Homo sapiens: one gene and its partners. The protein of the gene in region 4 purifies or fractionates together with the protein of the main gene of each other region. This does not show direct contact. Each region holds a gene or a part of one and is shown on either strand. Other genes may lie near its edges.

Evidence for each region. The genes of interacting proteins can lie anywhere in the genome.
Region 1: the proteins of KCNJ6 (region 4) and UFSP2 purify together in Homo sapiens (affinity purification with mass spectrometry; 2 studies listed by BioGRID and IntAct, with this or other methods). This does not show direct contact.
Region 2: the proteins of KCNJ6 (region 4) and MB21D2 purify together in Homo sapiens (affinity purification with mass spectrometry; 2 studies listed by BioGRID and IntAct, with this or other methods). This does not show direct contact.
Region 3: the proteins of KCNJ6 (region 4) and HPF1 purify together in Homo sapiens (affinity purification with mass spectrometry; 2 studies listed by BioGRID and IntAct, with this or other methods). This does not show direct contact.

What each region holds. Positions count from the first base shown.
Region 1 is NC_000004.12:185,408,965-185,412,464, reverse strand, and holds part of UFSP2 (ufm1-specific protease 2), read left to right. Parts: intron 1-51; exon of another isoform or gene 52-3,500. UniProt on the Homo sapiens protein: Thiol-dependent isopeptidase that specifically cleaves UFM1, a ubiquitin-like modifier protein, from conjugated proteins, such as CD274/PD-L1, CYB5R3, DDRGK1, MRE11, RPL26/uL24, TRIP4 and RPL26/uL24.
Region 2 is NC_000003.12:192,907,857-192,911,356, forward strand, and holds part of MB21D2 (nucleotidyltransferase MB21D2), read right to left. Parts: intron 1-3,500. UniProt on the Homo sapiens protein: Probable nucleotidyltransferase that catalyzes the formation of cyclic dinucleotide second messenger in response to some unknown stimulus.
Region 3 is NC_000004.12:169,747,945-169,751,444, forward strand, and holds part of HPF1 (histone PARylation factor 1), read right to left. Parts: intron 2,782-3,500; coding exon 2,592-2,781; intron 899-2,591; coding exon 800-898; intron 1-799. UniProt on the Homo sapiens protein: Cofactor for serine ADP-ribosylation that confers serine specificity on PARP1 and PARP2 and plays a key role in DNA damage response.
Region 4 is NC_000021.9:37,606,873-37,609,665, reverse strand, and holds the end of KCNJ6 (G protein-activated inward rectifier potassium channel 2), read left to right. Parts: 3' UTR 1-2,293; downstream 2,294-2,793. UniProt on the Homo sapiens protein: Inward rectifier potassium channels are characterized by a greater tendency to allow potassium to flow into the cell rather than out of it.

The sequences.
Region 1 (3,500 bases), on a different chromosome or scaffold from region 4:
TTTGAGGAAATCTTAAGAATTAAAAAAATGCATATACGATACAGTACGTACCCTAGATGAGTTAGGGGCCCACTTGTGGTCTTGGTCATTAGAGTGTACTCAGGGCAGCAGATCATCTGCAAAAGCTGTGGGCCAACCAGCTTCCATAGAAAGTTCCTCACAAAAAGAATAGTTCCTTAGAAGAACCTGGACACACAGAAGGTATTGAATGAGTACTGATTGCTTTTTGACAATAAAATAGGTTCATTATATCTGTATTACAAGGTCGTAAGAAAAATATATACTTTACATATTTATCATGTAATATTTGATATGTACATATAACATATGCAAATTGTAAAGCACAGTGGGGAAATGAATACCAGGGAGCTCCTCCCTAATTTAAGAAGCAAAACTTTACCAGTCTGTGCTCTTTCCCTACCCACTCCTCTGCCTCCTCGACACAGTTCCAGGAGGAACTATTATGGGTTTTGTGTTCATCATTTCCTTCCTTTTTAAAAAGTAGTTTCAGCGTATATGTTACATATCAATCTCAGCAATGTCGCTTTTAGTATTGCATAGTTCTGAGTTTTATAAATATGGTATCATTCTGTACGTAGTCTCTGCAGCTTGCTTTTTCACTCAATATTACATATCAAACATCTCTGGTATTTTGTCTAACCATAGTTAATTATCTTTATGATTTTTTCCAAGTTTTTTTGCTGTTTAGACAATGAACATTCCTATACCTCTCGATACATATGTGCAACAGTTGTTAACATTTTGCTATATCTGCTTCATTTCTCCCTCTTTTTTCCCCCTCTGAACCATTTCAAGGAAAATTATAGATATATTATTTACCCTTAAATACTTTGGCACAAATCTCTCAACAATATAGATGTGCATTCATGAAATAAACTCGGTTTGGTTATGACTCATTATTTTTTATTCCCCTCTGGATTCCATTTGCTAATATTTTACGATTTTTGCATCTATGTTCGTGAATGATACTGGCTTATAATTTTCTTCTCTCATACTGTTCTTATTTTGTTTTTTTATTAGTGATATACTGGTTTACTAAATTAGTTAGGTTAATGTTCCTTTTTTAGTTTTTTAGAGAAGTTTATATAAGAGTGGTATGATCTTTCCTTGGTCATTTGGTAAAACTTGCCTGTAAAACAATTTTGGCGTAGCATTTTCTTTGTGAGAAGATTTTTAGTAACCAATTTAGTTTTGGTAACAGCTTTAGGACTTTTTGATTTTTATAAGTTATTTACCTAGGTTTTAATATATCTTGTAGTCATAATATTTTCTTTTTCATTCTTCATATCATTTTTATGCCTTGTGTCTTTTAAAAAAAAAAAAACTTTTGGCTTTGTTGGCCCCCTCTATTATAACTTCTGTATTTGATTTTATTAATTTTTGCTCTTTACTTTCTTTTTTTTTGCTCTTTCTTTGATTTATTGTCTTTCTTCTAACTTCTTAAGTTGGACATGTTAGCTTATTGCTAATATTTCTTTCTTTCTTTTTTTTTTTTTTTGAGATGGAGTCTTGCTCTGTTGCCCAGGCTGGAGTGCAGTGGCACAATCTTGGCTCACTGCAACCTCCGCCTCCTGGGTTCCAGCGATTATCCTCCCTCAGCCTCCCAAGTAGCTGGGATTACAGGAGGGTGCTACCACGCCTAGCTCATTTTTGTATTTTTTAGTAGAGATGGGGTTTCACCGTATTGGCCAGGCTGGTCTCAAACTCCTGACCTCGTGATCTGCCTGCCTCAGCCTCCCAAAGTGCTGGGATTACAGGCGTGAGCCACTGCGCCCGGCCTAATCTTTCTTTTTTTTGAGATGGAGTCTTGCTCGGTTGCCCAGGCTAGAGTGCAGTGGCATGATCTCAGCTCACTGCAACCTCTGCCTCCCTGGTTCAGGCAATTCTCCTGCCTCAGCCTCCCCAGTAGCTAGGATTACTGGCAATAGCCATACGCCTGGCTAATTTTTGTATTTTTAGTAGAGACAGGGTTTCATCATGCTGGCCAGGCTGGTCTCGAACTCCTGACTTTAGGTGATCTACCCACTCGGCCTCCCAAAGTGCTGGGATTACAGGCATGAGCCACCGTGCCTGGACAGCTTTCTTATTTTCTAATGTAAGCTTTTAAATTTCAAGCAAAGCACTGCTTTTAGTGTATCTTATAGGTTTAATTTGAAGGATTTTAGTTTTGTTCACTTCTAAGTATTTTTATATTTTTCTATTATGGTTTTTCTTTTGTCCATGTATTATTTAGAAGTGTTTGTTAATGTCCAAATATGTCAGAATTTATTTTTCTTTTTTGCTTTTTTTTTCTTCTTGTTTTAACTGGTTTCTGACTCTTGCCTCCTGGTCAGAAAGAATTCTAAGTGAAACTAACTCTGAAATTTATTGAAACTTGTATTTGTTCCCTAAAAAATAATAACATATTTGATGGCTTAAAACTACAAAAATGTATTGTCTCAGTTCTGGAGTTCTGAAAGTAGTATCACTGGGCTGACATCACAATGTCAGCAGGACCACCTTCCCTCCATAGGCTCTTGGGGAGAATCCATTCCTTAATCTGATGGCTGCCAGCATCCTTTGGTTTGTGGCCCCATCATTCCGATCTCTGCCTCCTCAGTCACATTACCTTCTCCTCCTATGCCCCTCTCTTTTAAGAATATATGTGATTGCATTTAGGGCACACTAGGATCCAGGATAACCTCCCCATCTTAAGATCCTTAATCACGTCTATGAATACCTTTGCTTTCCTTTTTTCTTTTACTTTTTGGCACAGAGGGTGCATTCACAAGTTCCAGGGATTAGGACATACATACCTTTTGGGAGCCACTTTTCAGCCTGTCACAATGGTCAAGTTATAAATTTTTCTATCTGTGCTTGGGCAGAATATATATTCTCTAATTGTTGGGTGAGGGTTGGTTCTATCTTGTCCCTATCTCCTCTCACTTAATTTTTTAAAAATATCATCAGTTTGGAGCCAGGCATGGTGGTGTGCAACTGTAATCCCAGCTACTCAGGAGGCTGAGGCAGGAGGATCACTTGAGCCTAGAAGTTCAAGACCAACCTGAGCAACATAGTGTGACCCAATCTCAAAAAAATAAAAACAAAAACCCAGTTCTTTAATAAAAAAAGACATATACATTCTTAGCACTATAAGTAAGAATTTATATGATATTAGTAATTTATTTATCTTTATTTTTTGACCCTTAACTTAGCGTCATCAAATAACATACTTGGGCTGTAATCATAGCAGGTTTATAAATTTAGACACATTCTTCCTGTGTCCCATGATATGGACCCTTCATTTGTTTGTTCATTCCTTTATTCCTTCCTTCATTCATTCAGCATTTATTCAGCAGCATTTATATTAACCGTGTGCCAGGCGTGTTGTAGAAGCTTGGGCCCAAAAATGGATAAGACACAGTGTATGTACTCACTGAGCTCACATATTAGTGTAAGTAGGCAGATATTTTTTAAATGATAAGTAATGTATCATTTAA
Region 2 (3,500 bases), on a different chromosome or scaffold from region 4:
CTGAAAAGCCCTGAGTATGGGCATGCCAGAGGTCCGGAAGTACCCTCACATGCCTGTGAAGAAACACCGGGGTCCACAAGGAAGGGAACATCCCTATGAGTCATGAGTTGCAGTTTGCTGTTCCCAGTCAACAAGCTACAGCAATCACTATGGACATTTCTTATATTGCCCTAGGATAGGTCTTAAGGAATGTAGAAAAACTTGCCCTACATCCCTCTGCCACATAAGGAGATAAGATCAAAATTTTCTGGACTCCAGAAAATGATAAAGTATAACTCAATGGATTTTTAAAAATCATAAAGAGACAAGGTTAGAAAGTGCTAATTTCTCAGAGACTGCAATAAAAAGCTTCACTGGGAAGAGCTCTTTTAAAGAGTGACTCAAGTCACATCACACTTAGTGAGCACCTACTATGTGCATGACCCCCTGGGTGCTGCAAAGATAAATAAGCCAGGTATTCTTTAAAGCATGGGAAAGAACAGGCTAAGGGCCACAAAAGGGACCAGGTATTAGGAGGAAACACAGGAAAGGTAAATTTTCTTCTTTTTTTTTTTTTTTTTGAGACAGAGTCTCCCTCTGTCGCCCAGGCTGGAGTACAGTGACGCGATCTAGGCTCACTGCAAGCTCCGCCTCCTGGGTTCACGCCATTCTCCTGCCTCAGCCTCCCAAGTAGCTGAGACTACAGCAGCTGGGATGACAGACGCCCACCACCACGCCCAGCTAATGTTTCGTATTTTTTTTTTAGTAGAGACGAGGTTTCACCGTGTTGGCCAGGATGGTCTCGATCTCCTGACCTCGTGATCCGCCCTCCTCGGCCTCCCAAAGTGCTGGGATTACAGGCATGAGCCACCACGCCGGGCCAAATTTTCTTCTTCTCAAAGACATATAGGAAGGCTTCATGAGTCAAGTGGCATTTGAGCTGGGAGAAAAAAATAAAGCGGACATAAGGTGTCAGAAGGTCATCTGTAGAACCTGGGACATTTAATTGTTTCTGTGACATGGATCCTCTCGACAGACTGTAGAAGCCTATAGATCCCTGCAGAGAATAGCATATTTAAGTGAATATGATAACATCACACAGGATTTCCAAGAAAATCAGTATTAAAATACAAAATGCGGCCGGGCACGGTGGCTCACGCCTGTAATCCCAGCACTTTGGGAGGCCAAGGCAGGCAGATCACGAGGTCGGGAGATCGAGACCATCCTGGCCAACACAGTGAAACCCAGTCTCTACTAAAAATACAAAAAAATTAGCCAAGCATGGTGGCGGGCGCCTGTAGTCCCAGCTACTCGGGAGGCTGAGGCAGGAGAATGGTGTGAACCCGGGAGGCGGAGCTTGCAGTGAGCCGAGATCGCACCACTGCACTCCAGCCTGGGTGACAGAGCGAGACTCTGTCTCAAAAAAAAAAAATAAAAAATAAAAAAATAATAATAAATGCCTTTTTAAAGTAAATTTGTGATAGAGTACCCTATGTGATTATTAGTGCCTTAAATAATAAAATCTAGCAGCAAGTCTAATATCCACCATAATTTCAAAGCAGCAGTAAACATTTTTTGAGATATCTGCAACAACTGTAATGTGAAATAAAAATGCCTGGGATTTCTATTGGCAACAAAAACATACGAACCACTAATAACACTATGGTTTCCCATCTATATTTATAATGAAAGAAAATGCTATATTTAAGTTAGAGGTTAATACAAATAAAGATGTCCTTTTTTCCCCACTCAAGTTCACAGGTTCCATGCTGTTTCCATGGACCCAGGTTAGGGAACTCTGATGAAGAGCCTCGGCCAGACACGGTGGCTCACGCCTGTAATCCCAGCACTTTGGAAGGCCGAGGTGGGTGCATCACTCGAGGTCAGGAGTTCAAGACCAGCCTGGCCAACATGGCGAAACCCCATCTCTACTAAAAATACAAAAAATTAGCTAGGCATGGTGGCACGCACCTGTAATCCCAGCTACTCCAGAGGCTGAGGCAGGAGAATCACTGGAACCCGGGAAGCGGAGGTTGCAGTGAGCCAAGATTGAGATCGGCCACTGCTCTCCAGCCTGAGTGACAGAGCAAGACTCTGTCTCAAAAAAAAAAAAAAAAAAAAAAAAAAAGAAAGAGAGAGAGAGAGAGAAAAGAGCCTAAGAGCCTAAGCAAAGAAAGAAAGTGAGAAATTGGGGTGTATGTTACATGACAATGTAGAACATGCAGAGACAGGAGGCGGCATGGAAAGGTAGGTAAAATCCTCAGAAGATGGCAAATAAGGTAGGTAAAATCCTCGGAGGTCACCAATGTGAGAATTCATTACTCCCAATTATTAAATAATAGAATAGAGGTGGGGCGTGGTAGCTCATGCCTGTAATCCCAACACTTTGGGAGGCCAAGGTGGGAGAATCACTTGAGCCCAAGAGTTCAAGACCAGCCTGGGCAACAAGACCACCATCTCTACAAAAAAAAAAAAAAAAAAAAAATTTAAAAATTAACTAGGCATGGCTGTGCTCTCCTGTGGTCCCAGGTACTTGGGATGCTGAGGTAGGAGGATCGCTTGAGCCCAAGAGGTCAAGGCTACAGTGAGCCGTGATGGCATCATTGCACTCCAGCCTGGGCAACAGAGTGAGACCTGTCATTCATACATATATACATAAATAACAGAATGTGCTCTAAGTTCTAGAAATGCATCTTCTTTGGAATAAAAAGAGATGAATGAAAGAAGCTAGGAAAACATCATTCTACAAGTTTCAACTTATAGCTCCTCTTTAAAATGTAGAGGACAGCATATTGATAAATTTACTCCTAATAAAAGAGCATGGATCCCATACCATCCCTGTTATGTAAATGTACACATATGTCTGGGTATAAGCATATGTATAACACAGATGTTTAGAAGAAATGTGCATCAAAATATTAATGGTGATTCAAGTTTAGGAGTGATTTTACTTTTTCCTTTGCATTTTCTATCATTGGAAAACGGGCAGAATTAGGCCCAACATAGGTTAGGAGACTTAGGGTAAAACACATACCACATAGTACAAAACAGAGCTGGTACAAGAACTCAGAAATTCCCTTTTCTCTTACTATATAAAAACTTTCAGATTCAGAATTGAATGCACCTGAACACATGAAGTACATATAATGATTAAGCCCAACTTATATATTTAGAAACTGAGGCTTAAAGTCTGAGTGACTTGCCCAACGTCACACAGCAAATGTTAATAACTGGAGATTCAGAGGTAAAATCTGGGTCTCTTGGTCCTGAGTGCAGAATATTGTCCTTGTTAAAAGCCAGGGTTTTGTATTCATCCTGACCCAGGTTAAGTCCCACCTATGCCACTCACTTGCTGGTAAACTTGGATGAATTCCTATATTTTTCTAATTCTAGGGTTCACCACAGTTTTTTTTTTTTAACCTCAAAGTGTAATGGTGATGATTAAATGATACAGTAAAGTCCTATTAAAACCTGTGACATAGTAAACACCCTTGTCTCACTCACTATGCCTTTTTGTCTCT
Region 3 (3,500 bases), on a different chromosome or scaffold from region 4:
ACCAAAGATAATGTGGTCCTAGAGCCACTCACTGTGGCAGCAGTTCTCGAATTCCCAGCTCCCTGATGGTGGCAGAGACAAAATCCACTGTGAGCCACACAACTGTCATTCCTGGAAGCTCAGCCTGCTCCCTCAACCCTTCCAAGGATATAATGACCACCTCTTTTTACTTTATTAAGCCTTTCTGTTTGAACCATACATAAGAAATAAACTCTTAACAGGTGTTTAAAATCAGATGTCTAACAAAACTGTTGATGTTGCCATGGAACACCTGAGGTCAAGTATTATTTTCGTTAAGTAAAATAGTTACATAAGAGGTGTATTTTTTTGGTGAAGAGGCACAAAATAACAGTATAGATAAGACTACCTGCAAAAGTCATGGAAATTATCTCTAGAAATCTACAATTATGGGCTTGTCTCAAATCCGCTTTGTTTTTTTTTTTGGAGATAGAGTCTCACTCTGTCACTCAGGCTGCAATGCAGTGGCGCAATCTCGGCTCACTGCAACCTCCGCCTCCTGTGTTCAAGCAATTCTCCTGACTCAGCCTCCTGAGTAGCTGGGATTACAGGTGTGTGCCACCATGCCTCCAGCTAATTTTTGTATTTTTAGTAGAGATGGGGTATACCCATGTTGTCCAGGCTGGTCTCGAACCCCTGACCTAAGCGATCTGCCCACCTCGGCCTCCCAAAGTGCTGGAATTACAGGTGTAAGCCACTGTGCCCAGCCCCTCAAACCCCCTTTGTAATGGACTAATGTAGTATAAACATTGTAAACAAATATAAATTAAAATATTCTTACTTGACTGCAGCAAATACATTATCTCCATTTGGAACAATTATACAATTTTTCTTTGCTTCATTTATACCAACATATACAGGAAATTCATCAGGAGAATCCCTGTGTAAGCAAAAGACATTAAAAATTTAGCTGCCCATAATTTATATTATCAGGCAAGTGGGATTTCAGGTCTACAGACAACAATTTACACCTATTTTTTTTCCTTTTTGGAGGCCTTTTTTTTTTTTTAATCATACCAGAATTTATCGATTACATCAAACAAAAATTTCTGTAATGGAAAAGGCAAGTTGCAGTCATAAAAGATGGCATTCACATTCATTTTAGAAAGCAACAACGTAGATGTAAAAAATTGTTTAAGTGAAAAATGTAATATTGCAGTCCCATTTTGCAAGCTGAAAAATTTTGTCAACACACATAAAATCTGCACATTTACATACTGCATGTTAAAAAATTCCATCACTAAAGTATTATAAATATTGCAAAGTTAGGCTTAAATTTATACTGTTGCTGGTGTATATGTAGTAGATATGGAATGAATGTTTTCAGTTTAGTAGGTAGCATCCTCAAACAACGGACAACAGTTGTGAAAATTACAAAGACATTTCAATAGCTCAAAATTATCCAAATTATAGGTACATCGTCCTATTATTACACTTTTTTCCCTTTCTCTGTCACAAATAGGATGATTACATTGTAGTGGTAGGAATACTGCATGGTCTACTTCAAATTATTCGATCTGCTAACCCCACACTAGTCATTTTTCATCAGCTCCTCAGTAAAATATCTTTTAAAAAGGAAAGCCAGGTCCCTCCCAAGGATCTAGGTTGATGCCTTTTTTATAAGGGCATTTTTAAAAAAATTCAAACAAATTTGCCAGTTTTAAGCTCCAAGTTTCTTAGGAATATCTATGATAAATCTTATATAATGGAACCTAAAACTAAGATTCTTAGGACCTAGTTGCTTTTATACTCAAATACAAAAAAAAAAAAAAAGGAAAAACAAGAAAAAGGATTGTAAAACATTAGAGATGAAAGGATCCTATTCACGTATATAACCAAACCTTTTATTTTAAAATTGAGGAAACAAATACCGAGAGGTTAAATTACTCAGCCAAGGACCTAGTAAGTTAGGACCTTGGCTACAGTATAATTCAATTCCTAGCCACATGTGCATTCTGCTGTACTACAACACTTCTTCCTGGGCACGTTCCTTCTATTACCTTACATTTAATCTTCACTTTAAAGGATAGCATTTCTACTGGTACAAGCGGACAAGTATTTTCCTCCTGGAGTTTCTCTATTTCTAAGTATTCTGCATGCATTCATTTAATTCTCATAATATTCCTATCAGGTATGTACAGTTATCCCTATTGTTACAAGACAGGAAACCGAGTCACAGAAAGTCACAGTCAGTAATGATACAGGGTCACACAGATAATAAACAAGAGGACCAGTGTGACTCCAGAGACCACTCTTAACTACCAGTTGCCACTCTGGCACACGGCTTATTAAGCACAGCTGCTCTAAATTATCTTTCTTGGGCCAAAAGAGCTCTTCTGAACCCAAAAGGGAAAAAAAGTTTACAAGGAAAGGAAAAACAAGTGAGATTAAACCTAAAGAGTTTACCCATCCTAGGGAAGGTTAAAACGGTAACAGCAAGAACAACAGATGGCTCATATATCCACCAACAGGGGAAAATATGCCTTTCACCTTGGGTGAGGCTAGTGAATAACTATTTATCCTCATTAGCAGGACAGCAGCTGTATTTTAGAGGCGAAGAAAAGATCCTTTACCTGAAATACCCCATGTGGTACTGAGTTTTATTATCTCCAATAATAATGGTCTGGAACTCAGGAGGATCATAGTAAAACCTCCAGTGAAGGTTAAAATTCAGGCCTGTTGATTTTTTCTTCGTTTTATGTTTTCCAGCAAGGATATCATAAGGACCAACTAATTGAAGTCCAAGGCTTGCAGAAAGTGAATCTATAAAGAAAATAAATTTAGACAATACTTTCTGGAGACAGGTAGGAAATAATGCTTTTATTTAGTAAACTATTTCTAAGCAATTGTCTTTAAAAAGTTTCTAAACTAAAAAAATCTTGAGTTATGTGTGAAGATGTCAGTTATAAACATTCAATGGAAAAGAAGTCAGAGTAACAGGAAAAGTGGTATTTACATTTAGGATTTCCTCTTAAATTTACCACTGAATTAGCCTAACATTTCAGACATTCCTGTTGTTTCTTATTTTGGCCAAAGCAAGACTGGTTTGTATTCCTATAGGCCCATTACCACACTGCAGTTAGCCTCAAATACTTGTAGTACACACAGGTTAAGGGAGAGAAAGATAGCAAAAATGTGTGGATTAAGAGTAGTAAAAAACAGGCCAGGTGTGGTCGCTCACACCTGTAATCCCAGCACTTTGGCAGGCTGAGGCGGGCTGATCACCTGAGGTCAGGAGGAGACAAGCCTGGCCAACATGGCAAAACCCCGTCTCTACTAAAAATACAAAAATTAGCCGGGTGTGGTGGCTCACGCCTGTAATCCCAGCTATTGGAGAGGCTGAGGAACAAGAATCACTTGAACCCTGGAGGTGGAGGTTGCAGTGAAACGAGATTGCGCCATTGCACTCCAGCCTGGGTGACAGGGTGAGGCTCTGTCTCAAAAAAAAAAAAAAAAAAAAGGTAAAAAACATTTCTATCCCC
Region 4 (2,793 bases):
TGATTTATTTTAACCGTAGCACTACTGCTTTATTTTAGTTATATACCAGTAATGGAAAATAGTGGCCACTTTTCATTATTAATCATAAGATAATTCATTGTATTTGTCTTTCCTAATAAAATGGCATTATATTAAGGCCCAAAATGTTTACTATGGCCCAGTAAAATATAGGGTTGTTCTGTGAGCTATTTCTTAGGATAGAAAATTATTCCAGAAAGCTATTAGTTCAAAAGTCTCTAGCAGTGCCAAGGTTTCAATAGTCTCTTTAATTTTGAATCTATGCGATTGAAGATAAGACTGCATCTAGTTTGGGGGTTGCATGTTTGTGGACATTCATGTTTCTATGTACCTGGAACTTCTTATTCTCACCATCACACAGAATTTTCAAGAACTAGTTAAGCAAAGAAAGCAAAGCCCAGCAGGTGTCAGAATTGGGTCCCCAAGCTGAGGGTCATTAGGGTGCATGTCAGTGTGCCAACTCCAATATCCACACCTAGAGAACGCACATCTTCCCAAAAGAAATGAAGCACAGATGATACTTGATCCTCAACTTTGTCTCCAGAAATTTTTTCAGGAACTTGAGTTCTTTATCAAATGCTCACATCCTACAGAGAAATAAAGTGTTCCATTTTCAAGGTTCATGAAGCTCGTCAATGCTGGGAGCAGGCACACACTTGTATTTTTATACTCAGGGATCCCAACAGGCAACTAAAACTAGACAAGGACAAAACTCCACTCAAAATATTCTGAAAGTTAGCTGATGCCCCATATTTTATTACTCCAAATGTGTATTCACTTGCCTGAGTGCTGGCCATGAGCACTCAGTGAACACTTGCAGTACAGTGAGTGATGTCCTTGACAAGTTACTATGAAGACTCTGAGAAAAAGTAACATCCCCCACTGTCCTCAACAAGCCTGTAATCCCATGGCTGCCAGCCCTTACCATGCAACAACACTGCGCTAAGTGCATCGAACCACACAAAACCCTGTGAGAAAATACTGCTTCCCACTTCACACGTGAAGTAACTGAGTCTAGTTTTAGAAATACCTAAACGAAGAGGGACAGGCACAACAAATTTGCTGGAATGTAAAGAAAGTAGATCAGTTTCTGCGTAAGCAGTAAGAAATGGCCTCATGAGGAAGAAAGGGACATTTGCCCTGACATTTCTCAAAGACTGCTTAGGTTTTGGAGACAGAGATCCAAGGGCAGGCAAGCACAATGGTTCATGCCTGTAATTCCAGCACTTTGAGAGGCCAAGGTGGGAGGATTGCTTGAGCCCAGGAATTCAAGATTAGCCTGTGCAACACAGCAAGACCCCATCTCTATTTTAAAAAGAGAGAGAGAGATCCAAAAGCAAAGGCATTTCAGTTTGCAAGGCCAGCATGGGAGAGGGTCTTAAAACAGAAACACACAAGGTAAGATTGGGGGATGGTACCTAGACCAGCCTAGGATCATAGGATTTGATAAAATATGCATTTGGAAAACTGGTGCTAATTTATAGAGACTTAGAATTTCAGGCTAAGGACAAGGACTAAGAAACGAATAGCATGAACAGTATTATTGATAAACCCATCATTGCATCTTAAAGGCTCTGAAGTCTTTAGTATTGAATTAAAAAATAATTTTCACTGGACAAAACCAAAAGGTCTTTACACAACTGTCAAGCACTTTGAAATGATTCAGCAAAAAGCAGAATAAATCACTAGTGGAATTTCAATAGCATGTAGTTGTAAACCATCATGTGTCCAGCAAAATCACAAAACAAGAGTTTATTTTAGAAGGGACTTAGGGATATTAAGAAATATAACATACAAAATAACTAAAGTTTTCTCCAAGCAAAACCAATGATCCTTTAGGGATGAACAGAAAGAAAACAAGAAATGCTTCTTTCAAAAGTTGCTACCAAGGCTTCTAAGATTTCTTTGGAATAAAGTCACTAAGATTTGCTTCTGAGGTCAATCTTGCCAACTTTTCCACCATGCTTTTTAGGAAGGAACACCAGGTAGGGCTCAAGTACTGGTTTGGCTCCTGTCCCATTTTTTGGTCCTTTTGTAACTCCCTTTACTCAACTCCAAGTATGTCTGTGCACGGACAATGAGACGAAAGCATGCTCAATGCGAAAGCACAAATTATGTATTGAGAAATCACTACAATGCCAAATTTTTTTAAAATAAAAAAAAAATATATATATATATATATATCTTTAAGAACTCGCTGTGTTAGGGAAACTGTTTACATATTGAGGTGTTCCTCTTTTTTTGACTGGAACAATAAAAGAAAAATTTGATATGGCCTTGGTTTCTTTTTTATGTGTGTCTGTGTCCAAAGAAGTCGGCCTTTTCTACAAGTGAGAGCATGAATTGTTTCAAAGCGCAACACCCTGCCCCAGGGCCACTCAAGATGTCAGGCATATCAGGCATAACCCAAGGATAGTACCATGGGTTTGGAGTGATCTTCTCTCTTCTTCCCTCCCACTCTTCCTCTCTCTCCATCTCTTTCTTTCTCTCCCTAACTCTCTTGCTCCCTTTCCTCCTTCTCGCTCTCCCCCTCCTGTCTCTTTCCCCATCTCTCCCACAATGTTCTGCCTATGGCCAGATCCCAGCAATGGGTCAGCTCCGCTCCTTTCCACACCTACTGACCCAAGTGGGACTCCTTTGATACCTGTTTGTACCTTGCACTTCATGGAACTTGAAAAAAACGAAAGGGAATTAGGGACTTGCAGAGCAGTTGATCCTGCCCCTTGTCACAGCTCTAAGAGTCTTAATAAAAGGAGTTTGATCATTCATGATAAA